7 separate regions of the Homo sapiens genome follow, and regions 1, 2, 3, 4, 5 and 7 are each reported to be linked to region 6. The links are microRNA targets in miRTarBase. Many come from high-throughput screens and were not tested one by one. Region 6 holds a microRNA gene; each other region holds the end of a gene's coding sequence.

What was found. Region 6 holds the annotated microRNA hsa-miR-766-3p (ACUCCAGCCCCACAGCCUCAGC, at 2,836-2,857, shown strand). A microRNA usually pairs through its seed, bases 2 to 8, with sites in the 3' UTR of a target mRNA and lowers its output. Matches are read on the target gene's strand: a 7mer-m8 pairs with bases 2 to 8, a 7mer-A1 pairs with bases 2 to 7 and ends in A, and an 8mer does both.
Region 1: miRTarBase lists PTGR3 as a target of hsa-miR-766-3p. The part of its 3' UTR that is shown has no 7-base or 8-base seed match.
Region 2: miRTarBase lists RGP1 as a target of hsa-miR-766-3p. Seed matches in the 3' UTR shown: 7mer-m8 at 3,513-3,519, 7mer-m8 at 2,721-2,727, 7mer-m8 at 2,577-2,583, 7mer-A1 at 2,076-2,082 and 7mer-m8 at 54-60.
Region 3: miRTarBase lists PEX13 as a target of hsa-miR-766-3p. Seed matches in the 3' UTR shown: 7mer-m8 at 1,833-1,839, 7mer-A1 at 979-985 and 7mer-A1 at 536-542.
Region 4: miRTarBase lists STMP1 as a target of hsa-miR-766-3p. Seed matches in the 3' UTR shown: 7mer-m8 at 2,564-2,570.
Region 5: miRTarBase lists RHNO1 as a target of hsa-miR-766-3p. Seed matches in the 3' UTR shown: 7mer-m8 at 3,495-3,501.
Region 7: miRTarBase lists TBC1D24 as a target of hsa-miR-766-3p. Seed matches in the 3' UTR shown: 7mer-m8 at 3,620-3,626, 7mer-m8 at 3,120-3,126, 7mer-m8 at 1,191-1,197 and 7mer-m8 at 328-334.

What each region holds. Positions count from the first base shown.
Region 1 is chr18:75,197,655-75,201,880 of GRCh38, forward strand. It overlaps PTGR3 (prostaglandin reductase 3), which reads right to left. Exons shown (of 2, transcript NM_175907.6): 2 at 1-4,226. The coding sequence ends at 3,762. Among named protein-coding and RNA genes, the nearest start is that of PTGR3, 9.4 kb to the right of the region's middle.
Region 2 is chr9:35,752,622-35,756,621 of GRCh38, reverse strand. RGP1 (RGP1 partner of RAB6A GEF complex) reads right to left here. Exons shown (of 9, transcript NM_001080496.3): 9 at 1-3,971. The coding sequence ends at 3,748. It overlaps MSMP (microseminoprotein, prostate associated), which reads left to right and starts at 2,346. Exons shown (of 3, transcript NM_001044264.3): 1 at 2,346-2,622; 2 at 2,854-2,962; 3 at 3,342-3,632. The coding sequence starts at 2,493. The coding sequence ends at 3,522. RefSeq lists an enhancer at 2,533-3,732.
Region 3 is chr2:61,048,242-61,052,503 of GRCh38, reverse strand. PEX13 (peroxisomal biogenesis factor 13) reads right to left here. Exons shown (of 4, transcript NM_002618.4): 4 at 514-4,032. The coding sequence ends at 3,734. Among named protein-coding and RNA genes, the nearest start is that of SANBR, 15 kb to the left of the region's middle.
Region 4 is chr7:135,673,407-135,677,668 of GRCh38, forward strand. STMP1 (short transmembrane mitochondrial protein 1) reads left to right here. Exons shown (of 3, transcript NM_001130929.2): 3 at 685-3,010. The coding sequence ends at 759. Among named protein-coding and RNA genes, the nearest start is that of STMP1, 13 kb to the left of the region's middle.
Region 5 is chr12:2,887,812-2,892,073 of GRCh38, reverse strand. It overlaps RHNO1 (RAD9-HUS1-RAD1 interacting nuclear orphan 1), which reads right to left. Exons shown (of 3, transcript NM_001252499.3): 3 at 2,550-4,163. The coding sequence ends at 3,615. It overlaps TULP3 (TUB like protein 3), which reads right to left and starts at 1,183. Exons shown (of 11, transcript NM_003324.5): 1 at 1,086-1,183. The coding sequence starts at 1,126. RefSeq lists a silencer at 1,288-1,337 and an enhancer at 1,608-1,787.
Region 6 is chrX:119,645,358-119,649,619 of GRCh38, reverse strand. It overlaps MIR766 (microRNA 766), which reads left to right and starts at 2,772; the gene lies at 2,772-2,882. All of the region lies in intron 5 of SEPTIN6 (septin 6), which reads left to right. RefSeq lists an enhancer at 1,539-1,718.
Region 7 is chr16:2,500,550-2,504,797 of GRCh38, reverse strand. It overlaps TBC1D24 (TBC1 domain family member 24), which reads right to left. Exons shown (of 8, transcript NM_001199107.2): 8 at 1-3,994. The coding sequence ends at 3,840. Among named protein-coding and RNA genes, the nearest start is that of ATP6V0C, 11 kb to the left of the region's middle. RefSeq lists an enhancer at 3,887-4,248.

The DNA.
Region 1 (4,226 bases), not on the chromosome of region 6:
AAATGTTTAATTCTGGGCCATAACTGGGAAATTAGTTACTGAACATCTAACTTTCAACAAAAAAGCCCATGAAGTTTACATAGATAATTCTTGTGTTTAACCAAGTAATAAAATATTTAATAAAATGAAAGTATACAGAAGAAAATTATGAATTCATCAAATCAGGCCGTTTTGCATCCAGATTGTATTCAGAAAACTTGTTTAACACCTAGGAAATTACTGTCCAAAGTTGATAGTGCTTGGTCTTTTTTATCAGTTTTTATTCTGAAAGCTGTGCATTACTAATCTACTTTTATGTAAATCTGAAATACAGTATTTATCCCATATGTCCACATGGTAAAGTAATCAAGAAAGATATTTTCAGTGCTTAGCACCCCCACCCCAATTTAAAGGAAACTCTGACTGTAGTAAATTCATGCTAATTGAGAACTCTGGGGAAGGGGTTAAAACATTACCCAGGTACAAGTCGGGTGGCCATTATAAACGTTACCCAAATAAAAGCCAGAAACAGGAAGCCAAAAACCAGGTCCCTAAGGCAGGCATGTGTCTTAAATGATATCATTTGTCAAGCTTCCAGCATCTTGTGGTGGTGAACACAAAAAGAAGGTCTGCGTTGTACTGAGGACATTACATCCTCATTAGCTGGAATGTTCCTCAAGTACATAATGCAGGATTTTCATTTTAATAAGAAGCAGCTACTTGTCACTGCACTTTCATTAGATAAACACAGAATGTAATACTAATGACCATTTACAGAGGCTCTATCCTACTCCTGAGGAACTTCATCCAGATGAAATCATATAATGACAAGTTATAGAATATATCATGCAAAACTTCCTTCATTTCTTTGCAAACTATTCCCTGAATTTTTTTTTTTTTAATGCTGAGGTCAGTTAACAGCAGTAGTCATCATCAAAGGAACCCCTAAATGACACTGCTGGTATTTTCTGCCTGCAAAACAGGCTTGAAGGAATAGCATTTGGCTCTTTAGAAGTCATAACCAAATGGTAACAGATCACTGGGACTCCTTGGTTTCTCAAAGAGGCAAGCTCCTTCCACCCTGCCCGGCTGGTGACCTTAAGCCCGACATGCAGAGAAGTCCACGCTGAGAAATAATTTACTCACTGGGATTGTTCCACCCTGGCCCCTTCTCTAAAAAGACTGACAATTGCCCTGAATTATGGATGTACTTTTTGTGATATGTATTACAGTTCAGAAGAAAGGTGTTGAGACCATCGTACCGTTTCACCTCCCATTAGAGGCTGGTCTTGAACAATAATCCCAGAAGATGAAACTGATGCTGAACTATGACCCTCAATTTACAAATCATTTTTCAAAAGAATAAAAAAAAGTTTAAACATATTTTTGGCATTATCTGAATGGGCGGAATCTTTCATGCTTGTTTTCTAAGAATAAGTGAAAACAGCATGCAGTGCACTTTCTTAGTTTGGGGAAAGAGAGAACATGAGGTTTTCAGATTATATTTTATTTTAATCCTGGGCGTTTGAATTTTATTTTTACATAGCTGCATTTAGTATATTCCCTCAAAACACAATAAATTTCTATTCTGTAGCTTAAGGGATCCATCAGTTAAAATGTTGGTCTTTCATCTTTATTACCCTCCCATTAAAATGAAACAAACCGGGACTCACTTCAGTTTCGAAGAAGCAATTTAGTTGGTAATGTCCTTACTCCCCAAGTCTTTACAAAGGGAGAAAGTACATTACTGCTTAGATTTCACACATCTATCTGCATAAGAAGCAACTAAGCCTTTTGGACATAGACTATGTTAAATTTAATAATATTCTTTGATTAGATTATTTTATTACAACATTTTTTCCATTACCAGTCATTTCCTGTGCACAGTTACATTCATAAAACCTGCTCCCCCCTCCTTTGTTTGTTTGTGAATGTAAAAGTGAGGCAAAGTCTCTTTCCGTGTGGCTGTGGCTGTTAGGTCTGAAAGGGATGGATGAATAACTAAGCACCACACTGGACGGGTTTTTCCTAGTCCCCTGCACCAGTAACCCTTTGCTATAATGAGGACACAAAGAGCCTCGCATCAGGCCGCTACCCTTCTTCATAACTCAAAAGCGTCACAGTGGCAATAGCCTCTAGTGCTATTTGTCTTTAGTGCAGTTGTGACACTTCGGCATGATCCATAATTTGGCAGCTATTTACCGTGACATTTCCCTTCAGTGCAGCCATAACATTCAGTGAAGCCATTATTTGGTTCCATTTACCATATAAATTGTATTGTTGTGCATGCATGCTAGCAGCTACATTAGGTACCTGAAAATGAGTAAATCTTGTAAAATAGATACTAACAGCTATTCAGCAGTAGGATTTCCTTGCTCCTCAGATGGAAGGAAAGAAAAATTAAATACAGTCCCCAAATTTCCTAGAGCATCTTTAATTGCGTCCATATTTACTGAGCAGGTTAGATACACCGAAACCTAAGACTTTGAAAAATAATCTGGTGGGCTTCACCTTCAATCAGAACGGGCCCATGGGGTTTCAGCGCAACGGTGACAGCGGCAGCAGTCTTCAGGGCACTAAAGGTTAAGAGGGAAGCCGATGAGCCACAGGCGTGACTCAGAAGAGAGGGTGCAGGTTTCGCTGCTTTTCCTGTGTGGTCAGTGGGTCAATGTGGGACATCAGGCTATAGTGCCAAGGAGCATCTCATTCCACCAGAACACGTGGAGAGAAAAATGGGAATGCAGAATGAGTGGCTGCTATTCTGTTTCCAGAATCAGAGGTAACGCATAGCTTCTAGTTCGAACGCCTCTAAGGAGAAGCAAATGTATTCTTCCTTGAGATGACTGAGGTCTCTACGGTGCACAGGGCGATGGGACATACCGTACCTCGAGCAGTGTAGCATGCTGTTACTAAGGCCTTGCCGTGTGCCTAGACAGCGCTTCCCTCCTGGGGCCCGTGTTTTGTGGTGAACCCCCACTGAGAATGGAGCGCACACTTTTCTCTTTCCTGTGCCTATATTAATTTTAAGTCCCCCTAATCTCTGTGGTTTCCCTTTCCAAAACCTACTTTCTGTCTATGTAAGTTTTCAACATTAATTTGCTGCTTCAGAGGAAAGAGAACATTTCCATTTCACATGTGCCTTATCAGGTTGATGGTAGATAAAAGCCATTACGTGCTACTTCTTCAAAACACATCTGTGTTCACGGAATCATTTTTCTAATAACAAAATCAAATTTGGGAGGGAATTCCCCCAAATGTCCATTTAGATAGTTGGTTGGTGATTTATAGAAAAAAAAAGGACCATTTCCTGAGGATATAGATTCTGAAAATATATGGCTGGCTTTTGCTACACTTGTCACTCATGAACTGCTTATGAGCATAAGACCAAATTCTCCCAAAGCAAAGAAGTCGGGAACCACTTTCAAAACTGATTTTAAAATCTGATCAAGCTGAAGACATACTGACTCGATCAGATCTGGCATCAGGAATGAATTTAGTTCCCTGGAACAATAACATCTGGAACGAGACCATCCATGACTAAAGAATTGAATGTAAGCGTTTTCCCTCTTAGCCATGGAGGGAAGTTTTATTAGCACATTTTTTTTTTTCCCCCAAGGGAAGAGGAGGAGGAGGAGGAGAAGGAGAGACCTATTCATTAACACCTTACTTTTGTTTTAAGAAATATTATATCCATTACCAACTAAAAATAAATTGATTTGAGTAATTCTGAGACATAAAGTGCCCATTTTCTTTCTCCCTTGATTTATGTCATTGTTCTGTTTTTACAGCTTACTGTTGACAGAGTGAGGTAATTCAACTACAATTTTTCCAGTGTTTTTTCCCATGTACATATAATTGACAGCACGGAATATGGACTCCAGGCCAGTAAACCTGCCCTCTGGAGACAGATCTCCAAGGTCCACCTCACAAACCAGGTCTCCGCTCACACACATCTCGAGCAAGTGGCTCATGGCTGCTTGATACTTAGAAAGGTAATGGTTCAGGAAGAAGCCCTGTACGCTGGCAGATTTCTTGAGCAGTTTGGCTGGCAATGTTCCTGCTTTCACAGGCGAAAGGCCAGTAGGAGTTTGGTAGCCAGAGATAAACCCTATTACTATCAAGCGCCCTTTCGTAGCCAGGGCGTCTACAGCCAAGTCAAACATGGCTCCCCCAACAGATTCATAGACCACATCGACACCTTCAGGGTACTCCTGCTTAAGGACGGTACCTACGGGTTCAGTTTTATA
Region 2 (4,000 bases), not on the chromosome of region 6:
CCACTGACAAGACCTTTGGGCCCTCGTGCTAGACAGGCCTTCGAATCCACCTGCTCCAGCCCAGAGAGCAGGCCCAGGCCGTGCCTCCCACACCGCAGCCGACCTCAGAGCACCCTGCCTCAACTGTGAGTTTTTTCTTGGCAATCCTCTGAAACGGAAAGGGTATCAGTCCTGACTAGGGCGAACGTGAGGTCCATTCTGCATCTCCATCCACCTTAGCTGTCTCCTTGGAAAAGGACAGCAAGGGAGTTTGAGGTGCACTGACACAGTCATTTCTGAACAGTGAAGAGATGACAGGTAGGGTGGTCCCCCTTGAAAAGTCAGCCAGAAGTAGCTGTATCTGATGCACTAGGTGGCAGGGAGTGAGTCTTGGAGTAAATGGGACTGAAAACGTAGAAAAACCAAATAAATGCCAAAGAGACTATCCCTATGGAGAATACCTAGAACATGGGTCTTTGAAGTGTGGAAAAATGAAAGAAATCCAATTTGACCAGGGCCTTTAGTGCCAAAGAGATGGCTAGCAGGAGAGTGGTGAGAAAGGAGAACTGGAGAGTTCACATGAGCGGAAATAGGAAGAAATGGATCCAAATCCAAGTGAGAAAAAGCAGGAGACTTAAAGTTAGCCTGGCAGGATGATGAGAAAAGGACATCTTGTCCTAGGGTAGAGGCGAGGGTGCAGATCTGGGGGAAGAAGGCTTATTGGGAACAGTTTCTCAAACTAGACATTCAGAAGTCAATACAAGGGCCAAAACCAAAATGTTCCTGGAGGTACCTGTTTTTGAAAGAGGTGGGAAAGGTGACATGGATTAGGGGTCTCCATCCCCCAGGCCACAGGCCAGTACCAGTCTGTGGCCTGTTAGGAAGCGGGAGCACAAAGCAGGAGGTGGGCGGCAGGCGAGTGAGCATTACCGCCTGAGCTCCTCCTCCTGGCAGATCAGCAGAGGCATTAGATTCTCACAGGAGTGCAAACCCCACTGTGAACTCCGCATGCAAGGGATCTAGATTGCACACTCCTTATGAGAATCTAATGCCTGATGATCTGAGATGAAACAGTTTCATCCCAAAATCATCTCCCCGCTGCTATCCCCCTCCATCCACTGGTGGAAAAATTGTTTTCCACAAAACCGGTCCCTGGTACCAAAAAGGTTGGGGACTGCTGACAAGGAGTATGAGTGTGAAAGGTGCAGAGGTCTATGCCAGGAGACAGCCATCCCCAATAGAAGCCCTCAGCTATGCACAAACTGCTTAATGTCATTCAAAGAAAATAATGTCGCCCATTTTGCCTCAGAGCTTTAGCCCCAATCACAGCAACTGCTATTTCCTGACGCTTACGCACCAGAGATGGTGATAAGAGCACTGCACGCATTATCTCAGTAATCCTCATAACAGCCCAATGAGTTGGCATTACTATCCCCAATTTATAGATGAGGAAACAGGCTCAGAGAGGTGAAGTAATCTGACCAGGTTACATAGCTAAGTGGAGTCAGGATCTGAATCCAAGAAGACTGTCTCTACAGCCCATGCTCTCAATAATCCATCCTGGGCTCCTCCAGAACCTGTGGGAAACTCAGAGGATGCCAAATGATAAATTCCTAAAAACCTCACTCCATTATATATGGGAGGAAAGAGAGGACACCTCTGTGAACCTGGAGTGATTCATCCCATCAGGGCACTTAGAGATGCTCCTCTTTGAAAGGGGAAAGAACCATCCCCAGATGTGGGGTGATCCCACATCTGCTGTATGTTTGAAGGTGATAAGCAATGGACAGTTCACCTCTGGAATGCCTGAGGAAAAGAGACCCTCCCCACCATCTCTGAGGGGCAGCCCTATTTCTTGGATACATTAGGGAAACCCTGCCCTAGGATCTGAGGGAAACACAGTCTCCACTCCAGGTGCCTGCTCACTCTCCTGGAGCTTCTGGCCGTCGCACCCTATTGCAGCTCCTGGGTTTGGCTGGGGCACAGGATTAACCATCCCCAGGAAATGCCTCCCTCCGGTCCAGGCAGGGATCCCAGCATACACACCCCTGGTGGTGGCAGTGGGGGAGAAAGGGGGAAGGTGGAATGCTTCCTTCTCTCCAGGTCAGGGAAGAGATCTGGGGACCACCTGGGGGCCCTCGCCCCTCCTGCCTCCTTGCTGGGGAAGTGCCCAGTCCAGTGCCCCCTCCATGGCCACCTCCCTCCCTCTAGCTGTGCCGGGGCATGAATCAGCTCTCACAGCTTGTTAAAGCTAGACCTCTTGTTTTCATGCCCTCACCTCAGGAAACAGAGTTACAACTTTTCCAGCTCTACTCAGCAGGGGGCCAGGGTCCTCACTTTATAAACATCCCCAGCCTGTGAGAGCAGAGGGCAGGGAGATAGTGTGAGACAGGAGCCCAGGGGAGAAAGACAGAAACTAAGACTCAAGGAGCAACGCAAAGCAAAGTCAAGGAGTCAAGACCAGAGTAGCTGAGCAGAGGCCAAGAAGGGTCTGAGAGGGCTGTGCAGCAGCAATGGCCCTAAGGATGCTCTGGGCTGGACAGGCCAAGGGGATCCTAGGAGGCTGGGGGATCATCTGCTTGGTGATGTCTCTACTCCTCCAGCACCCAGGAGTCTACAGCAAGTGCTACTTCCAAGCTCAAGGTAAAGTGGGGTGAAGCGTTAGGAATGGAGGAGCAGCAGAGAGGGCACAGGGAGGATGGGGCCTTACAGATGATCCCGTGTCAAAATACCCAGGCTTCCTCCAGCTGTGAAACAGGAAAGACAAACTAAATACGGGGATAGTGCGTACTTACTGTCTCCACCCCAGACCAGAAGAGCCTCTGCCTCTCATCAGCACTCCTACACCTACTAACATTTCCCGTTCTTCCCTAGCCCCCTGTCACTATGAGGGGAAATATTTTACCCTGGGTGAGTCTTGGCTCCGCAAGGACTGTTTCCATTGCACCTGTCTGCATCCTGTTGGCGTGGGCTGCTGTGACACGTGAGTGACCAAAGATGGCCAGAGAGAATGACTCTGATATGAGTGACTGAGGGATGACCAGGGAGTGACTAGATTGCTGTGATGTAAGAATGAACAGAAGAGCAATACAAGATGGGCCAAACCTGAAGGGACCAACACTAGTGTGAAAGATAAGGCTTCAGGCTATAAATCAGGGGAGGTTGGGGTGGACCTGGAGAGAAAATACTCCTGTTATAAAACAAAAAGGCCCACATATGGTAGGTGACAGCTTAGTTAGGAGGACCAAGGGGCCACTGAAAGGGGCTCTGTGGGGGGAAAACTGTGAGAGAGGGAACATGTGGGCAGGGATAAAGGCAGCCTTTCACTGTGCTGACTCCTTCCCCTATCCTTGGTTCCCCAGGTCCCAGCATCCCATCGACTTCCCGGCTGGGTGTGAGGTACGTCAGGAGGCAGGAACCTGCCAGTTCTCCTTGGTGCAAAAATCTGACCCTCGGCTGCCCTGCAAAGGGGGAGGGCCTGACCCAGAATGGGGCTCAGCCAACACCCCTGTTCCTGGGGCTCCTGCTCCCCACTCCAGCTAAACTCAACTGATCATCCATCTGCTGACTGCTCACTGCTGCTGCCACTTCCAGGGAAACCACTAGCAGCTGCCAATGTATTCTGAACAAATAAATTAATGCTATAGCTGAAAGCCCGACTCTCACTGTCCACGACATTGGACCCCAGGTGGAAAAAGTGGGTCCCATTAGAGTCCAGGTGCTGAGTTCTCAGTATCCGGAAGGAACTAGCACCAGGGTGGGCCAGTTTCAGATGGTTATGGTGCTGGTGCTGGGGCCTGGGGCAGCATATGAGGCCAGGGTGGGGCTAGTAGGCAGCACCTTGATGGGCAGGTCCCAGCTGAAGGTGTCTACAGGTACTTGCTCAGGTCCTGTCCAGGTGGTAGGTTCGGGCTGTTCCACAGGGGGTAGGAGTACCAATCCTGGTTCTCGGGACGTTACAAATTCAAAATGCAATCTCCACTTCAAGGACACTATGGAAGAAAAAGATTAAGGTAGAAGC
Region 3 (4,262 bases), not on the chromosome of region 6:
AGATCCCCCAAAATCTAGGTATGAAGTGTTTTTATTTAACACACCTGTAGGTAATTCTATATAAATGTATTATTTTTCTTTTTTTTTTGTTTTTTTCTTTTTAGATGGAGTCTCGCTCTGTCGCACAGACTGGAGTGCAGTGGCGCGATCTCGGCTCACTGCAATCTCTGCCTCCCAGGTTCAAGCAATTCTCCTGCCTCAGCCTCCCAAGTAGCTGGGACTACAGGCACCCACCGCCACACCTGGCTAATTTTTGTATTTTTAGTAGAGACGGGGTTTCATCATATTGGTCAGGCTGGTCTCGAACTCCTGACCTTGTGATCCGCCCGCCTTGGCCTCCCAAAGTGCTGGGATTATAGGTGTGAGCCACAATGCCTGGCCTATTTTTCTTTAAATCACAAAGAAACAGAACAGATAGGTTTGCAGTAGGTAATATATACAATAATGTTAAAGAGATACTTCATATTAATTCTAATCCTGCAAAAGTGTTAACAATTTATCTTAAAAAGTCAATCAAGTTTAACATATTTTTATTTCTCCAGTAAAAGTAACTTCACAACCTACTAAAAATAAAAATTTAACTGCATTCAGTTTCTGTTCATTTTTCTATTAAAGAAAGCACAAGATAAAGGATAGCTGTGTTCAAGTAAATGTGTAATTATGACACAGACAGAATCAAGTACGTACATAAAATGTTAAAACATGAAAATGTATAGTTCTTTTACCATTTCCTTTCTGAACTCATAAAATATAATCAGAAAAATTAAAAGAAACATGTTTTATTATTGTAAACTTATATTTTATTTAATTAATAATGTTTTGGTGTGTTAGTAATTTCTGTAAAGTAGCACTCCTTAAATAAGTTCCTAAAAATAATATTGGAGCCTTGAACATTTAATCTCAGCTAAAAAAATTATTCTAAAACTGTCATGATAAAAAAGGTTACAAAATTTCTCTTTATTCTAGTCCTGAATTCCTTCTCCAGAATTTTAATACAAAACGAATTTTCAGGCACAAATAGTCACCAGATAATGCATACCGTAATTTAGCAGACTTAACCAAACAATAAACACCCCTACAAAAGTGTCACTATTTTATCACTTTGTGCTGTACTCTTCTCCCTATACATCTTTAATAGTGGTCACTTCTACTTTACTTCTAGCATTCAATTTAGACATCTCAACCCCAAATTTAATAATCTGTTTTATCAAACATTTGTTTTGAGAACAAAATTTCTATAAATTATCTGACAAATCAAAGCAGAACCTTTAATTGTAGAACACAAATGAAAAATAATATACAAGAAACCTTATCTCTTCAACTTCAAGGCTAATACCTGGGTGTTGGAAAACTGGCCAAAGATAAATAAATTTTACTATATTTATTTTTCTGCACTGGGTCAAGATTTCTATTATAAATGATATGTTACTTACGATACTGTCGTTTCAAAAAAGGGCTTTCCAAGAAGCCTTTAGTAAAGTTCTTCTATGCTGGGTATGTACTTGGTTCCTGTATGTTTTAATCTGAACTATTCGAGAATTACTTATTTGTTGAACATAGTCTATTAGAAAAAAATACTAAATCGCTGGGTGCGGTGGCTCACGCCTGTAATCCCAACACTTTGGGAGACCGAAGCGGGCTCATCACGAGGTCAGGAGATGGAGACCATCCTGGGTAACACGGTGAAACCCCGTCTCTACTAAAAATACAAAAAAAATTAGCCGGGCCTGGTGGCAGGCGCCTGTAGTCCCAGCTACTCGGGAGGCTGAGGCAGGAGAATGGCGTGAACCCGGGAGGCGGAGCTTGCAGTGAGCCGAGATCGCGCCACTGGACTCCAGCCTGGGCGACAGAGTGAGACTCCGTTTCAAAAAAAGACAAAAGAAAAAATACTAAATCACAATTTTTATCAAACAGTTCAAAGTTTTCAACAATATCTATAAATGTATTCTTATACACCTGTATTCCTGATAGTATTACTCTGTAGTATGTTCGTAGCCAAGTATATGAAGTTTCCAATTTTCTGGGGAAATATTCAGTGTACTGAAAGTTAACTGCATTTAAAATCATTATAAACCAAAAAACACGTCAAATAGCATTATCGTATTATTATTTTTTGTTTGTTTGTTTTGAGACAGAGTCTTGCTCTGTCCCCTAGGCTGGAGTGCAGTGGCATGATCTCAGCTCCCTGCAACCTCTGCCTCCCGGGTTCAAGTGATTCTCCTGCCTCAGCCTCCTGAGTAGCTGGGACTACAGGTGCACGCCACTGCACCCAGCTAATTTTCGTATTTTTAGTAGAGACAGGGTTTCACCGTGTTGGCCAGGCTGGTCTCAAACTCCTGACCGCAGGTGATCCGCCCGCCTTGGCCTCCCAAAGTGCTGAGATTAAAGGCATGAGGATTATCATATTCTAAATGGCAATAGAGCACTAAGACTATAAATAAGTCTCAGTAGTAAAAACTAAACCTAAAAGAAAAATGTATCCAATGTGACACATTTTCAATATTTACAGAGCATCCTAAATATGGAATTTAAAAAATTACACAAGGTAGAAGCAAACAATCTATGAAAATATTAAAAATTACTATTATAACTGATTATATCATTAAGTGCAAACTCAAAAGAACTCAAGTATTTGTTGTAGGAAAAGAAAGTATACCTTTCATATACTTCTGATTCACCCAGTATGAAAACTAGTCATATTTTAAAGAAATAAATAATTTTATTTTTTGAGATGGAGTTTCGCTTTTGTTGCCCAGGCTGAAGTGCAATGGCGAGATCTCCGGCTCAGCGTAACCTCCGCCTCCTGGGGTTCAAGCAATTCTCCTGCCTCAGCCTCCCGAGTAGCTGGGATTACAGGCATGTGCCACCACACCTAGCTAATTTTGTATTTTTCGTAAAGATGGGGTTTCTCCATGTTGGTCAGGGTGGTCTTGAACTCCCAACCTCAGGTGATCTGCCCGCCTCAGCCTCCCAAAGTGCTGGGATTACAGGCGTGAGCCACCATGCCTGGCTTAAAGAGATAAATAATTAAGGGATCCTTAGAAGAAATGGAACAGTTTGTAAGAAAGATAAATTTCAGACTTTTTGCTAGGAGGGAAAACTATTAGGGCTACATACTCTATAATTCTAGAACCATTTCCTTCAGAATGCTTCTGGGTGACCTTTTCAAATTAAATTTTTAAAAATACAGTAAAAGATAGCAGTGTCAGTTGTTTGTGGGTGAAAATATAAACCCAACACTGGATATAATACAGATCAGAAAATTTTATTATTGAGATTACTTAAGGTTGTAAAAAAAAAAAAAAATTTACCTTTTGCCTGTTCTCATACTGACATGTCACCACTCCATTTCTAAGGATTCCAAGTCAATTAATGCAGAACTTTTAAAAGTATTAATGATCTCTACTGTACCAAACTGTGCATGCTATAGTTCATCAATCTTACTCTTCCAATAAACCTAGAGATTTAAATAAGATAAAAATGACAGCAGTCTCCATAATCTTAAAATCTAGGTGAAACAAATGTCCTTATGGTCCAATAATGTGTATAATAAAATGTAACCAGGTCACCAGACCAACATACTAGTGTGTAACTTTAATAATTTCTAGCAGCAAAACACCTGAAATAGCCAATAACAAATGTTTTCATTGGATTGTACATTCATTTCTTTGTGAGAAATAATTTTAAAAAGTACTCTAAAGTATTGTTCAACTGCAGGCAAACATGAAAGATATCAAAGATCTTGCTTTTCTCCATCTTTCCCAATGGAATCAGGTGCAACTGGAACCTTATTAGTTTCAACAAAAACAGATTCAAAGGCAGCTTCCTGTTCATCCAAAGAATCAGCAACCGTGGCTCCTTTAGTTAGTGTTGGGTTGGTAAAAGATTGTTGCTGCTTGGAAACTTTACTTGATTCCACCGTTTTCCTACCTTTTCTTTTGCCAAGAATTTTGACATAATTCGCAGGTATAAGTCCTGTTGTTTGGCCATCAAGGCTAGCCAGAAGCCAACCACGCACTTTGGGTTGTTGTTCTGATGGAAAAAAAAGACAGTCTTGTAATTACAATATACTTTGGAGGTCCAACAGAATAGTAATGGTAAAATATCACATTCAGGAAAATCTGTTATGCTTACATAGTAGATAACAAATAGTACATGCATATATATTCAAAATCAAATGCTGAGTAGGCTTAACAGTTCTAGGGTCCATTCTTCTATTTTTATTTTATACTTACTAAATATTTCCTTCCACCTTGAAGAAC
Region 4 (4,262 bases), not on the chromosome of region 6:
TGATTTGTTATAAAGCTTTTCATATGACAAAGGGAATTCCTTTGTCAACCTTCGTTTGAGTCATACAGTTTTCTAGGCAAAGGCTACATTATGTCACATTTATTGTTTATATGTACAACCTTTACTTGGCACCAGATCGAGCGGAAGTGGGTATACAAAAGTAGAAGTGGGTTTCAGAGAAGGAGCATACTTATCTGACAACTTCTGATATCTTTCACATGCAGTTATAAGGCTAAGAAATACCACTATTGGCCGGGTGCAGTGGCTCACGCCTGTAATCCTAGCACTTTGGGAGGCCGAGGTGGGCAGATTGCTCAAGCTCAGGAGTTCGAGACCAGCCTGGGCAGTGTGACGAAAGCCCATCTTTACAAAAAATACAAAAATTAGCCAGGGGTGGTGGCATGTCCGTGGTCCCAACTACTTGCGGGATTGTGGCGGGAAGGATCACTTGAGCTCTGGAGGTCAAGGCTGCAGTGAGCTGTGTTTGCACCATTGCCCTCCAGCCTGAGTGACAGAGTGAAACCCTATCTTAAAAAAGAAAGCAAAAAGAAATAACCACTATTTAGCAGATCTCTTTTGGAGGAAGATAAAAGCTTGTAAAACCATTTATCTTTGGAGGAAGAGAAGTACAAGAATATTGATTAGGTAGATGCAAAATTATAATAACCTTTTTTCTCTTCAAAGATACCAAACCTGGCTAAAAAACTTGAAGAAATTAAAAAGGACTTGGATGCCAAGAAGAAACCCCCTAGTGCATGAGACTGCCTCCAGCACTGCCTTCAGGATATACTGATTCTACTGCTCTTGAGGGCCTCGTTTACTATCTGAACCAAAAGCTTTTGTTTTCGTCTCCAGCCTCAGCACTTCTCTTCTTTGCTAGACCCTGTGTTTTTTGCTTTAAAGCAAGCAAAATGGGGCCCCAATTTGAGAACTACCCGACATTTCCAACATACTCACCTCTTCCCATAATCCCTTTCCAACTGCATGGGAGGTTCTAAGACTGGAATTATGGTGCTAGATTAGTAAACATGACTTTTAATGAGTAGTGTCTTCTTTATCGTTTGCGATTTTTACTACCTTTTTTCAAAAGAAAAATTGATGAGTTTTGTATAGCTGGTCAGATACAAATAATAGTGACTTCACAGTTTAGTAATTATAATGGGTACTTGTTAAACATTTGGTACTAAATTATGTTGCTGCAAAGTAATTAAAATTAGTATCTAGAGCTAGTTTCTGGTGAATTATTCATTTATTTTGTACTGTTGTTAGGCAGCTCTGTAGTTGCTAATTTAACCAATAAGTCAATTTGCTATTCATGAAGAAACGATTCTGAGAATCCTGTCAGGAATTGGGGAATGAAAAAATACACAAAATAATGGTCTTTGTCCCAGTAGAGTTCATAGTCTATTTAGTGTGCATGTTTTTCCTTAATGATGTATTTGATCTGACTTTTTTCCTTCTCAAAAGAATCATACTTGGGATTACAGGTACATTTGATGTTATATGATGGATAAGTGAAAAGTTTTTAAAGGAGATTTTATACCTTTTCACATTAAAAAAGGTATTTATATTATTACTTTGTAGTGATTGTCTTAAGAAAAAATATAGCCCAAATGTATAGTAAAATCAGCAGCTCAAGAAGAATTTCTGCTTCTCTTTGTAGTTGATGCTTTGTTTTTTCCTGCAGTCAGAAATTCCTTGTATTTGTCAAATGTATAATCAGCTTGTATTGTTTTTAAATTAAAAAAAAATTTGAATAATTAACTTTTGCCATGGGACAAGATACAAAAGTAATTTCATATAAAGGGCCTCTCCCACCCCTGTTCTCTGGCTCCTGGCTCCTGTTTGACAAGTTACTGTTACCACTTCGCCTTATACTTTTGAGAAAGAGTCTGTGCCTAAACAAACACGTGTAACACAAATAGTAACTATACATGGAGGTCTAGCCCTCGCCTTTTTTTTTTCTTTTTTTCTTTTTTAATGGAGATCATTCTATACCAGCATGTAAGTAGCAAGGAACCTCATTCTTTTTTTGGCTGCCTAAAATTTTTTTGAATAGATATAACATAATTGATTTAATCTGCTACTGGTGAATGCTTAGGTTGTTCTTTTGCTATTACAGTGATAACTTCAATCCTAATGTTATTAAGCATATCGATTCAGGGTATAGCTATAAGATGAAGTCCTAAAAGTATAATTTAGACTAAATACAAATACCCATTTCGCTAGCTGTTTTGTTTCAGAGGACTTGTTGAGCAGCTTCACTAATAATGCCATTTTTGAAGACATGGCAGGTTCAGAATCAATAAACTGGAAGAATTGTTCAGAGCATCTTTTTTCAGACAGTGATGACATTGATTCTGTATATGATAAAGTGATTCTGCTTCTCTTTGACAACTTGCATCTCTCCTACATGGAAGTAAGTTTTATTCCTGTCAATGTTGTCTTTGTGTGTGACAGATTAGGATTAAATTATGGTTTGACTTTTCCTAGCAGCGTGATCATGGGCAAGTGGCTTTTTTTTTTTTTTTTTTTTGAGACAGAGTCTCACTCTGCTGCCCAGGCTGGAGTGCAGTGGCACAGTCTTGGCTCACTGCAACTCCTGCCTCCCGGTCCAAGTGATTCTCGTGCTGCAGCTTCTCAAGTAGCTGGCATCACCACCACACCTGGCTAATTTTTGTATTTTTAGTAACGACGAGGTTTCACCATGTTGGCAAAGCTGGTCTCAAATTCCTGGCCTCAAGTGATCTGCCCACTTCAGCCTCCCAAAGTGTTGGGATTACAGGCGTGAGCCACTGCGCCCAGCTTTTTTAAACTTTTAGATTCATTTAATAGGTAAATTGCATGTCACGGGTTTGTAGCTTATTCTTTCAGAAACTCTTGCATTATCTGTAGACGTGGACGTAAATATCCACCTCATAGGGTTTTCATAAAAAATAATTGAGATAATGTATGTAATGTTTCACAGTGCTTTGCAGACTATCTAATAAATAGTAGCTATTAGTACAAACTTGTTGCTTTTTGGCTAGTTCTGCAGTCACTTTTGGAATCAGTTTATGAACCACACAAAAAGTTTGTCATTATTCTGTAGTCGCTGTTTTTGATACTGATGAAAATTTACAGTATCCACCTGGATTGTACCATCTGGCTCACAAGATTTGATCTTGAATTGTTAGCACAATGAACTACAGCCTCAAAGGATGAAAGTTTACCTTGCGGGTATTAAAAATGCTAGAAGCTTAGAAAGCTGTTTCCAAAGAGGGATTCCTTGTTACCAACCATGATAGCATTGCTGTGGTGTGTGTGGTCTCCCAGAGTGGCTGCTTTGGGATTGGAGGTCACTTAGCTATTAGAAGGATAGGTCTCTTTATATTATACCTTGTAAACAAGGCTCATTTGGACTTAGGGCTTCCTTTAGAGGTGACACTTAACCTTGGCAAGGGGATCATTTCTACCAGTGGGATCCATCTAGCAGATCAGTTCTTAAATTCGGCTTCATCATGTAAACTGCTACACAGTGCAGGCTGACTTTGCATTCACCATTCAGATACCCTCTCCTAGTTTTATGTTCTTGGCAGCAGTGAAAAGGACCTCAGAGTTCTCAGGCAAGATGATCTTCACTGAGCTATATGTTGGAGGAGCCCAGAACCATCATAGTTTTAGGGTGTAGTTGAAAATCCTTACTGTGAATGGGGTTTATGGCACTGAAAGTTACCCCTTCCCTGGGAATTTTGTAGGAACCCTTGCCACACAGATCAATGGAGTGGTGGGAAGAAGCACCACAAGACAGGCCTTTTTTTTTTCCTTTAAAAAATGTTTGAAAGCTCCTACTAATATGGTTAGGAAAACTTCTGCCACATCTGACCATAAAATGAGAGTTGCTCAAAATACTAGTGCAGATTACTCTGACATGTGAAATACAAGACTTCAGGATTGATGCTAGAAAAATACAGTGAACTTGAAAAGCTTATCCCTAAACTGTAATCCTCCCAAACAAAACAAAAACAAAGCAAGAAAAAAAGCCTTATTTAAAATTGTCAAAAGAGGCTGAATTTTATGAAGTTACCAAAAGTATATCTTTAGACTTTTCTTCTGATTTGGTATTTTATGTATTTAAGCAGTTACCTGATTCTGATTTAAAGGAGCAATTTTATTTCTCTTTTTCTAACTCATTTACCCAATGAGTTTGTGTGACTATAGAGAAAAGTAGGCTGTGTGGTTTTTCTAGTTGTCTATACACATTGCCTCATAGAGCATATGTA
Region 5 (4,262 bases), not on the chromosome of region 6:
GGATGTCACTGCGTTGCCCAGGCTAGCGAGCTCAGTGGCCCAACACAGGAGTTTGGAACTCCTGGGCTCAAGGAATCCTCCCTCCTCAGTCTCTCGAGTCGCTGGAACTACAGGCGCGCACCACCGTGTCCGGCCAAATTTTAATTGATTGACTGATTGATTTTATTTTATTTTATTTTTTTCTAGAGATGGGGGTCTCGCTATCTTGTCCAGGCTGGTCTCGAACTCCTGAGACCAAGCGATCCTCCTGCCTTGGCCTCCCAAAGTGCTGGGGATAATAGACGTGTTCCAAGGCGCCTGGCCCCAAATCTTTGTCTTGGTAATGGAATAAAAAGCGGGGTATACAGTTGGCGTGTAGGGCTTAAATCCTCAGATGACGCCAAAGTTTCTAACCAATGATTTCAAACGGCTTCCCATTAACTTCTCATTAACCTAGCGAACAAGAAAGTGACACGCTGAGATTTTGGATCCTTTTTTTTCCGAGGCTCTCCCTCTGGCAGAGAAAGAGGCGCACAAACAAGGGGTGTGGCCCACTGGCAAATCAGTCAGACCATCCCGAATCAGGGACAAACACTGGAAAGCAGAGAGGAAAAAGAAGTTTCGCGTTTCCGCTCCTCGGACTCTGCTCCAGAATTCAGCTTTACCCGTCCGAAGCAGCGGCGTCAGAACAAGCTACTAAACATCACCCGCACCGCCTCCCGGGAGGGGCTGGGTCCCCTCTCGGCTGTGACACCGCCGGGCAGTGGGAGCTGAGCGGGGCCAGCGCCTCTCCCCCGAGGGAAACCCGAGGCCCAGAGGGGCCGAGGGAGCCCGTCACGAAAACTCCAGAAGTTCCTAAGCAGGGACCTGAACCAAAGGTCTCTGCCCACGGCGCGGGATGTAGTGCCGCCGCTCCACTTGAGAAAGGGGTCCCCACACGGGAGTAGGGCGAGGGGGTCGCCTCCCGCCGCCGAAACCAGTCCCTCCCTGAGTCGCCAAGTCCCGAGTCCCGCCCTCTCCCCGCAGGGCTCCCGGAGAGGACCTCCGCCTTCTCGCTTCGCCCCTCCGCCTCGCTCAGGAGGAGACCTGCCACGGCCCTGTCTGACCTGTCGCCGCTGGGACTGAGCCGGCAGCGCGAAGCCTCCATGCCCGCCACCGAGGAAGCCCCCACCACGTACACACTCTTCCCCGCCGTCGCTAGAGTGGCTAGGCTGGCACGCCGCCGCGTCCCGCCTCCTGGCAACCGCGTTCCACACTGTCGCCGCCGCCGATTGGTCCGTGTTCTCGTGGCTCCTGTCTCATTGGCTATTGCCGGGGCCCAACGATGCGGGAGGGTTGCTAAGGGGCGGGAGGCGAGCGGGAGTTAAACGCGCCTGCGCGGGGGTGGGGTGACGCGAGCTAAGGCTTGGTCCTCTGGAGCGCCTCGCGGGGCCGGTACTGAGCGGGAAGACTTTGTTTTTGCCTGGGCCTCGCCCGCCGCGCGGCCAGCAGGCGAGTCCGGTCAGAGGAGTCTCCTATACCGCACCAACCGCCACGCACGCAACGGCTCCTCGCACCCCCGCCATTTTTACCGAGCCCACCCAGAGCGCTTCCCGAGGTCTGCCCTGTGAGGATGTACAGACCTCTGCCGCTTCCCATTCTGGCCCCTGCCCTGATACCAGCGGCCTTCGTGGACCCCCTCTGGTACCCTCTCCACTCCATCAGTCACTCCCAGTGAAACGCATCTTCCATAGGCTGGCCTTGAACTTCAACTGCACAGAACTTAAGCTTCCCCTACTCCAGCCCAAGCTTTTAGGTCATTCCTAGACCTGCTCTACAGACTCCCCTAAAGCACACGAGGGAATCCAGAGACTTTAATTTTTTGAGACAGGGTTTCTCTCTCGCCCAGACTGCAGTGCAGTGGCCCGGTCTCAGCTCACCGCAACCTCCGCCTCCCAGGCTCAAGCGATTCTCCTGCCTCAGCCTGTGGAGTAGCTGGGATTACAGGCAGGGGCCACTACTGCCTGGCTATTTTTCGTATTTTTAGTAGAGATAGGGTTTCACCATGTTGGCCAGACTGGCCTCTTAACTCCCGACCTCAAATGATCCACCCGCCTCAGCCTCCGAAAGTGCTGGGATTACAGGCGTGGGCCCGTCCTGGAGACTCTTTCCATCTACCTTTCTACCTCCTGTGGGCCTTCCTCAAACATCCATAGCCCACCGTGAGAGCCCCTGTCTAAATGTGTACTCTTGTCTCCAATAAATCCCGTCCCCAAATGTCAGTCCCTTTCTCCCTACCGACATGCACATTATAGTCCCTACAAAACATCCTGAGTCCTGACAAGTCACTGCACAAATGGCTTTATGGCGTTCTAAGGTCAAAGTTGTTTCCACATTGGTTTTGAACCTACAAGTTAGTACTTTAGGAGGCACACGCTGAGAGTGGACCGTTACACTGCCTGGGTCAGCGTGCACTCACTGTGTGACCTGTGCATGGTTCATTCTCTGCATCAAACTCCCATCTGTAAAATATACAGTAATCCCTGCTTGATCTAGTTGGGGCTGGACCTGACACAGTAGGTCCAGCTGAATGAATGCTAAATGAATGGGTTTAATGAGATGCTACTTGTCTGAGTAAAAGGCCGAGACATTCGGTTGACTGGGGAAGTCCTTCTGCATTAATTACAATAAGTAATACTCATTGAAAACTTTCCTTATTTACACACAGTTGAACAGTTATTCTAAGAAACCATTTTCCCACCCTATTTAATATTGACAGATTTCTTCAGTTAGAAACAAAAACTCAAAACACACGCAATCCTAAAGAACTCATCTATGTCCCCCTTATCTCCCCTCATCTTATGTAGTCCCTAAAACAGGGCTTGCTGCCCTTTCTTCTTCTTGCCTTTTCAGCAGATGAGTCAAGGTTGCAGAGGTGGCAGTCAACCATAGAGTCACAGAGTTTGATTTTTTTCCATCCATCAGGTCGTAGAAGCTGCCACTGAGCCTGACAAGAGTTGGTACTCAAAAATGCAGAATGAATTAGTTTGAATGAGGTGATTAAGGATTAATGAGTAGTGGTTAAGGAAACAAAGACCATTAGTGGATGGGGTAATATTGCTGTATTACTGATGGAAGCAGGATTCTCTAAAAAAACTTTCTGCAGCCATTTACTTACATACATTTTAAAGAGTTACTACAAGATATTTTAAAAATTTAAACAGTTAATACAAGAAAAATATGAAGTGAATAGTTCATGACACTAAACTGAACTGTTCATGACACAAAGTATCTTAGAAAACAAATCTCGGCTGGGCCAGCACTTTGTGAGGTCAAGGCCAGCAGATGACTTGAGGTCAGGATTTTGAGACCAGCCTGGCCAACATGGAGAAACCACATCTCTACTAAAAATACAAAAAAATTAGCCAGGCATGGTGGCTGGTGCCTGTAATCCCAGCTACTGGGGAGGCTGAGGCAGGAGAATCGCTTGAACCCAGGAAGTGGTGGTTGCAGTAAGGTGAGATCATACCACTGCACTCCAGCCTGGGCAACAGAGCAATATTACATCTCAAAAACAAAAACAAAAACCCTAGGAATTGAATTCCTTTATGACTCCAGAAAACATATCTCTTTTCTATTGAGATTACTGATGGCAGTCAGCTTTTCACAAGGAATTGGCTTCTGCTCAGCTTCCCTCTCTCCCTGAGGTAAGCAAGCAGGTGCTGTCGTCTCCTCCATGTGACCTTTATTCCATACTTGTCCTCGGGGGTGTCTTTAACCAGAACAGGTCCAGGCTCTGGGCTATTAGGAGTGCCAGTGTGAAGAGTGCAGCTTAGAAGGCTGTTTTCCTTCTGATCTTGGGGAATGAGTTCTTCCTTCACAGACGATGACTCTGGGGTCTGGATATCAGGTGGAATGAACACATAAGGTAAGCTCTGAAGTGCCTGCACTGACATGTTCCCACAGCTTTGGGGACTGAGCACTGGAACTAAGGGTCTTCTGGAAACATCCTTTTCTGATTCACTGGGGCACTCTCGGATTAAGGGGATCCCCAATGTCTCTGAACTGGAAGATTGCGGACTCTCAAAAGTTAGATGTGGAAACTTGGAGGTGGTAGGTTTTCGACTTGAGTGTCTCGCCCGGTTTTGGTGTTTCTGGTAGGCTGGGAACAAGCTTCCTGCTGCTGTATCAAAATCAGGTGATACCTTAAAAAAAAAAAAAAAGTGAGGTGAGCCTAACTAAGTACTAACCTAAGAGAGGAAACTGTATCTGATGACCAGACTCTTAAATCGGGGTCTACTGTA
Region 6 (4,262 bases):
GATTACAAGTGTGAGCCACCACGCTGACCCCTTTATTATTATTATTATTTTACCAAATAGCAGCAAAACATCTTCACCATCCATCTTAGTGTAGTCAACTCTTTTTTTCTTTTACTTTTTTTTTTTTTTTTTAAGACAGGATCTCATTCCATTGCCCAGGCTAGAGTACAGTGGCACAATCTCGGCTCACTGCAACCGAGATATGTTATTTTTAAATATCAGGGTTGGCTGGGCATGGTGTCTCACGCCTGTAATCCTAGCACTTTTGGAGGCCGAGGCGGGTAGATCACCTGAGGTCGGGAGTTTGAGACCAACCTGGCCAACATGGCAAAACCCCGTCTCTACTAAAAAATACAAAAATTAGCCAGGCGTGGTGGTGTGCGCCTATAATCCCAGCTACTCTGGAGGCTAAGGCAGAGGTTGCAGTGAGCCAAGATTACGCCATTGCACTCCAGCCTGGGCGACAGAGTGAGACTCCATCTCAAAAAAAAAAAAAAAAAAAAAAAAATCAGCGTTATGCTTTGCTTTATTAAGTGTGAATGAATAATAATAATAAAAAACCTTGCCATCTTTCCTCTCCTCCCCCACTTTCTCCTACTAGAGAAATGAGTAATAAAGAAGGCAGAGATGCAAACATCTCCTAATGCTTCCTTACAATGTGTTGCTGTTGCTGTGAAATCTTCAATGTTGTGATTTCAAGGAGACAGCTAATAGCTTTCAGAAAGCCTCCGCTTTAGGAACAGATTTCTTTTTCTCTATTGAGTGTCATCAGTTTTTCCTAATGACATAATGCCTGGGTATAGCCAAACTCAGGAAAGCCTTGTAATAAAAGCCATTTTTAGAAAACTTTCCTGCTGCCACTGCCCTCTAAGTTATCATTACAACTTCAGCTGCCACCTCCTATGAATTGGCCAACAAATTAGCATAGCAGGGCAGCAAGTCATTGTCTCTCCTGACTTCCTGTCCATCAGTACACCCGAGATGTGTTTGTTATCACCATCACCATCTTAGACAAATCTGGCTCAAGGGTAAGGCTATCTGGAGCATGGTAGGTAGAGATAGGTCTTCTCTGACCGGCCGTGGGCATGGAAAAAATAAAAAAGATTAGCACTTGTCCTCTCGAGAAGTCAGGGCATTTTGATGGAAACTAGGCTCTGTTATGAAGAGACAGCCTAGTCTGCAGAAAAACGGGAGCCTCGCGAGAAGTGTCATCTGGGTGCCACGGGCACTGATGTCTGGAAGCGTCTAGTCACCTCAGGACATCAGTCCCCATAGAGACCTTCTGAACACTGATGCCCTAAGTCATCAAGCAGCTTGCAGGCTTGTGGTTTGCTTTGCTAAGAATAAATAGGGACTGAGAGTACTCAGCCATCTCAAGGTGTCACACAGAACCACATCTTGGTACCTCATGGATTAGGAGTGATAATCATCCTGGGCTCTGTTCTCAGCTCAGCTCTGGCCTCCTGCTAAGCCTAGGGTAGGCTCAACCTCAAGGCTGGAAACCCCCAAGCTAGGCAGCAGCAGTTGTCAAGCATGCTGTTATGGCTGTGAAGGGATTCTGGGTCCTTTATTACTCATAATTGTGTTTCACTTTGAGAAACAAAATTCGAGGCTGAACAACATAGTGAGACCTCATCTCTACTGAAATTTAAAAAAAATTAACTAGTGGCCGGGCGCGGTGGCTAACGCCTGTAATTCCAACACTTTCGGGGGCCAAGGCAGGTGGATCACCTCAGATCAAGAGTTCGAGACCAGCCTGACCAACATGGAGAAACCCCGTCTCTAGTAAAAAGACAAAATTAGCCAGGCATGGTGGCGCATGCCTGTAATCCCAGCTACTCAGGAGGCTGAGGCAGGAGAATCGCTTGAACCCAGGAGGCAGAGGTTGCAGTGAGCTGAGATCTCGCCTTTGCACTCCAGCCTGGGCAACCAGAGCAAAACTCCATCTCAAAAAAGAAAAAATTAACTGGTGCTGTGGCGCACACCTGTAGTCTCAGCTACTTGGTCGGTGGGTGGCCTAAAGTGGGAAGATTACTTGAGCCTGGGAAGTTGAGGCTGCGGTGAACCCTGATCGAGCCACTGCACTACTGCAGGCTGGGTGACAGAGCAACACCCTGTCTCACAAAAAAAAAAAAAGAGAGAGAGAAAGGAAAGGAAAGAAAAAGAAAGTAAATAAAGAGAGAAAGAGAGAAAGAAATAAAAAGGAAGGAAGGAAGGGAGGAGGGAGGGAGGGAATTCCAGTGGAAGGAAGGAAGGAAGGAATGGAGGAAGGGAGGGGAGGGGAGGAGAGGAGAGGAGCAGGGAATTCCAGTGGATTCAGGATTATCCCTATCATAAATCACTCACCACTTACTCCCTTGCATCCTACTGTGCTTTGTTTTTTTTTTGAGACAGGCTCTCACTCTGTCGCCCAGGCTGGAGTACAGTGATGCAATCAATTTCAGCTCACTGTAGCCTCCACCTCCTGGGTTCAACTAATCCTCCTGCCTCAGCCTCCCGAGTAGCTGGGACCACAGGCATGCACCACCATGCCCGGCTAATCCACTATGGGTTTTTTTTGAGTGGGAAAGAGAGGAGTGGCCTCACAGCTAGTGTGCCTGAATTGGCATGCCTGTGAGAGGAGCTTGCATGTGAGTGTTTTGTGTTACATGCGCTGTGATGGGAAAGAGGGTGCTATCAAATATACACAGAGGATTGCTTAGCCTGCCTGCCACCGAACAACTATGTCAAAAGTCCCCAGAGTCTTCACACAAGCCGTGGTGTATGAAGCTGCATCCTCAGGACCTGGGCTTGGGTGGTAGGAGGAATTGGTGCTGGTCTTTCATTTTGGATTTGACTCCAGCCCCACAGCCTCAGCCACCCCAGCCAATTGTCATAGGAGCTGGATTGGAAGAAGCGGAAGAAATCTGTTGCCTGAGTGGAGAAGACTGTACAATGTCCTGTCTCTCACCATGGGGGATTTTTGTGGCAGGAAATGAGAGTAATGAGGTCCCTGCCACCACCTTGAATTATGGGTGGCTCCAGAAAACCTTATTGTAGATTGAGGGGGAAGAGAAGGGAGAGCGAGGTCTTGTTGCATGCTATTTTCAACCCATGCTCTGATATCTCTCAAGGTTGTAGACTTTAATACTAAGAATTGCTATGTTATTTTAAATTTAATGATGTTCTTTGAATGGCTGAAAGCATGGCCAGGACCAGCAAAAAGGCCCAGTTACTTAATTGACTGAGCTCCATTAATTGTCCATTTGTGAGGTCTGGGGTTTGGTTCCCACAAAGGCAATTGACATTTGGGCCCAGTGAGAACACATGGCTGAACAGTAGGGTCATAGGAAGACCCACAGGCACAAGTCCATCCCTTCCTCTGAGACAGCAATGGTATTTCCATTGTTGCCATGTACTTTTACAGGAATCACCAGTGGTTGACTTGAGAGCAAATCAGCCAATGGTCTTGTTCAGTCACCAGCAGGGGCCTGAAATGGGGACTAACATAACTGGGAAACACTGTCCACCCTGGGAGGAAACCAAGCCCAATCAGAATATTATCATTAGATGAGGAATAAAGAGTTCTGACAGTGTGTATTTCACTGGGCTAAGCAGTCACCTAGCCTCCCAAGTATAATGGATGTGGTGAAATAAGAATAAAGTAACTCACGCCAATTGGATTATTAAGTACTTTACAATGTACAAGAAGAATTTAAGTTAGACACAAGTCAGTAAAGGTGGTGCTATGGTTTGATTGTGTCCCCTCCAAAATTCAGGTGTGGCCAGTATGATAGTATTAAGAGGTCGGGGCTGGGTGCAGTGGCTCACACGTGTAATCCCAGCACTTTGGGAGGCCAAGGTGGGCGAATCACAAGGTCAAGAGATCGAGACCATCCTGGCCAACATGGTGAAACCCCGTCTCTACTAAAAATACAAAAAATTACCAGGCGCAGTGGCTCATACCTGTAATCCCAGCTACTTGGGAGGCCGAGGCGGGTGGATCACCTGAGGTCGGGAGTTCGGGACCAGCCTAACCAACATGGAGAAACCCCGTCTCTACTAAAAATGCAAAATTAGCCGGGCATGGTGGCACATGCCTATAATCCCAGCTACTCAGGAGGCTGAGGCAGGAGGATCGCTTGAACCCAGGAGACGGAGGTTGTGGTGAGCTGAGATCACGCCATTGCACTCCAGCCTGGGCACCAAGAGCAAAACTCCATCTCAAAAAAAAAATAGCTGGGCATGGTGCCACACACCTGTAGTCTCAGCTACTCGGGAGG
Region 7 (4,248 bases), not on the chromosome of region 6:
TTAGTAAAAATGTGAGAAAGTAAACAACTGTAAAAATTAAATCGATTCCTGGACAGTGGGAAAAAAACGGGGCAATCTCGGCTGGGCGCGGTTGCTCACGCCTGTAATCCCAGCACTTTGGGAGGCCGAGGAGGGCAGATCACGAGGTCAGGAGATCAAGACCATCCTGGCTAACACGGTGAAACCCCATCTCTACTAAAAATATAAAAAAATTAGCCGGGTGTGGTAGCAGGTGCCTGTAGTCCCAGCTACTCAGGAGGCTGAGGCAGGAGAATGGCGTGAATCCGGGAGGCGGGGCTTGCGGTGAGCCGAGATCGCGCCACTGCACTCCAGCCTGGGCGACAGAGCGAGACTCTGTCTCAAAAAAAAAAAAAAAAAAAAAAGGGACAATCTCAATAGGCCTGTGGTTTAGTTAACAGCAATGCAACAATGCTTATTTCTTTGTTTTGATATTGACTTGGGGGAAGGTGAGGGTACATGGAAACCCTGTACCGTCTCTGCAACTCTTCTGCAAATCAAAAATTACTTCAAAATAAAAAGGTACACAACTAAATTACTAAATATAAACTACTCAAGGAGACTGCAAAGGCTTTATGGGTTCAGAAAGTGGATAAGAGAAATATGAAGGCCTCTGAAATCTTCAAAACGTTTTAAAACAAATTCCACTGAAAAACTCAAAAAATGAAGTATGCGGCTTACAAAAATAGAAAAATTAAAATACTTTAGTTCATTAAAACTCTGAAAAAATTCAAGTACAAATGACTTACTCTCATAAGTTCTTTTGCTTAAACTGATTTTCTGAAGCCCCAAAGGCATATAATCTGCTTTAATGAATTCATTTAATAAACTATTTTAAATTAGGTGCAATTGTTGTTTTAAAAATAAATGTTAAACATTTATTCAGCACAAAGTGGTCTATTCAAAAAAATTAAAAAATAGGCTAGGCGCGGTGGCTCACGCCTGTAATCCCAGCACTTTGGGAGGCTGAGGGGGGGGTGGATCACGAGGTCAGGAGTTCAAGACCAGCCTGACCAACACAGTGAAACCCTGCCTCTACTAAAAATACAAAAAAAATTTAGCTGGGCGTGGTGGCGTATGCCTGTAATCCCAGCTACTCAGGAGGCTGAGGCAGGAGAATCGCTTGAACCCAGGAGGCGGAGGTTGCAGTGAGCCAAGATCATGCCACTGCACTCCAGCCTGGGTGACTCTGTCCCAAAAAAAAAAAAAATCAAAAAATAATTCTTTGAATGTTTCTAAAAACAAATGATAATTTATTATGCAGTTTCAACAAATGTTGGCTTTTTTTTTTTTTAAACAAAGAATGGCTACTTCATAGGCAGAGCAGCCACTTTTGGCTAATTTTTAACATCCAAAGCTAATAAATAATCAAGAAGAAATAGAGAACATTAACAAAATAAATTATGTTCTATTTGGGAATACCTAATATCAGATACTAACAAGTACAGTGATAAGAATAAAAAAGATAATAATCACACATACCTTCTAGGTTAGTAGAAAAGTTAGGAAAAGATATTAAATTTAAAGAAACAATATTTTGCATGCACACAAAAAACAAAGAACTTCGCTCATGATGTGGAAATCATGACCCAGCAGCAATCCGTCTTCCTGGTCCAGATCACTGGAAGGCCCGGGTGGGGCCCCCTGGGGGCAGCCACGCAGAACCTGCTGGACTTAACTCGCCAGAAAAATCACCACCCAGTTCAGGAAGTTTGCAGAGGGAAACCTACAAATGGTCCACGGATATGACTTCCCTGCTCCTGGAGGGCTCCCTCTGGAAGAGGCTTGCAGCATTCCAGTCATAGAATGTGGGTGAGCACTACAGCGGGCAGCCTCCCACACCTGCTTGGCTGTAGGCCCAGGAAGCCCCCGGAGGCCCCTCTGGCTGAAGAGATCAGACTCAGCTTGGAGCCCTGGAGTTGATGCAGCAAGACCATGTTTAATGAACACCAAAGCTGGCGGTACAGATGAGGGCCTCAGGGGCTCAGGCGGGGGCCTGGAGGGCTGCGGTGGGCTGAGATGAGTGGCGACTTCCCTCCCATACCTCTCCCCGTGAGAGGGATTCACCCCATCCCCCTGCGAGCCTCTCAACAGTCCTGTGAGGAGGACAGCAGGGCATGGGGACTGGCCCCATTTCACAGCTGGGGAAACTGAGTTCCAGACGGGTTTGTCAGCTTGCCCAAAGCCACACAGGGTTCCCGGTCCTTCCTCCTGCACCACTGTGCGCCCAGTCAGAGGCTACATGAGCAGATGGTCAGGGGAGGCTAAAGCCCCATGGGAGGAGCAGGCAATGGTGTGGGGATGGAAAGTGGCACGGTGCAGGGGACTCCAAGTGGCACTGGCTGGAGGCCAGCAGGGACGGGGGTGGGGGCAGGACTGCTGGTACCTGCCTCTGTGACCCAGGCTTCCATGGTCCCAGAACAGCCACTTGGGCCTCTGTGTCTCCCTTCTCCCCTCCGTGGTGACCAGACCCTCAAGACGAGTTGAAGGAGGTCATGGGGCATGGAGGGAGGTCACAAGGCAGGGGGCTGCCCCCTATAGTGCCCAGAGGCAAGGCCTCCCCTGGCACCTACCTGCGTCTGGCCAGCGCAGGGCTCAGGCAGGGCAGGGGCCCAGGGGCCCAAAGGCTGTAAGGTGAGAGGCTCACAGAAAACCCTGACACGTGGCCAGCCACAGCACCACAAGAGGGACAGAGGGAGGACATGCATCCATGCAAGGTGGCCAAGGAGGTGCTGTGTGGCCAGGGCCAGGGGAGGGCACGGGGCCTGGTGCAGAGAAGCAGTTGGGGCTGCACTGAGATGAGCATGCCACAAAGAGGGGCTTGGGCGTGACCCTGGGCCCCAGGTCATTGCAATGACAAAGAGGTGAAATGGGCAGCTGCAGAGGCTACAGGAGCTCAAGGAGGCCTGGGCTGGAAGGGAGGGGAGCTGAGAAGCCCCCTGGGTCCAGGCTTCTCTGGGCAGACCCCTGGAAATGGAGCTTGCTGGTCTGGGTCGGTCCCTGAGGGCCTCTCCCGGGGCTACCTCTTCAGATGGGAACACGCAGGGAGGCCCAGCAAAAGCTTCAGGCTCTGCAGAAACACAAGGACATGTGACATCCCCCTCCAGCTCCCACCCTCCCTGGGGGTGGAGCCCAGCACAAATCCCACCCTCCTCCTCCCACCCAGCAGCTCCCAAACGCAGCCCAGGGGAGCCTCAGAGGCAGCCAAGAAGGGTTAATGTGAGAGGTGGCCCAGGAGGCCTGGGGAGGGAACTGGGGCAAACGCCCAGGACAGGGGGTGGGGTCCGCCAGGGGGCAGGCCCAAGGGTGCCAGTCTGTTCTCGGGATCTACGCTGGGATTCAGTCGCCAGCCAGCCAGGCTGCAGGGCCCTGCTCAGGAGGGCGCGATGCTATGCGGCACCAGCAGGGGGCACCACAGGCCCACCCTTAGCTGCACGTTCCCACTGCCGTTGTACTCCCACCCCAGGGGCTCAGGCTGCCTAGAGAGGCTCAGGGGCAGCAAGACCCAGACACTCCCAAGGCCTTGGGCTATGGAAGCCTCCACGGAGGAGGAAGGTACTTCCTATGCCAGCTCTGGGTGGGGCTGGGGGCACAGCAGGCCCTCCAGCTCTGACCCAGATGCAGGTGGACTGGGGAAGCCCAGCCCAAACCCCAGGTAGAGGCAGCAGCAGGTCCAGGCAACGCCAGGCTTGGCCATGGGGTCCTGCCGTCCCCCAACCCTGCCTACCACATGGGGGTTTCATCTGCTCTCTGCTGCCCGAGGCGGCAGCCCAGCCTCGGCCCACCGCCCCACCACGGCTCAGTCACCGTGGCACAGGCCGTCACTGGGTGTCAGGGTCCTGGAAGCCCCAGGCCTCCACGGCAGCAATGAGGAAGTTCTCGGAGCAGAGGGGCTGGTTGTTGAAGGTGTCGCAGTGGCTTGTGCGGCCCCGGTTCAGGTCCCCATCGATGTAGAGCGCCTGGCCGCCTCCTCCCCCTGCAGGATGCTCAGGTCAGTGGCGGCCTGACTGCCCTATCAGCACTGACCCAGGCACCTCACCTGCTGTCCCAGCTGTCCTGCCCTGCACGGGCCTCTCTGAAACCGCACAGACCGTTGACCCTCCATAGCCCCCAGGACCAGCTGTCCAGGCTGGTCTCTCCCTTCCAGCCCCCTCCCACCCATCATGCCTGGTCCACCCTGACACCCAGGGCCTCTTCTCTGCCACCCCGGTCAGGGAGGGCTGGGTGCAG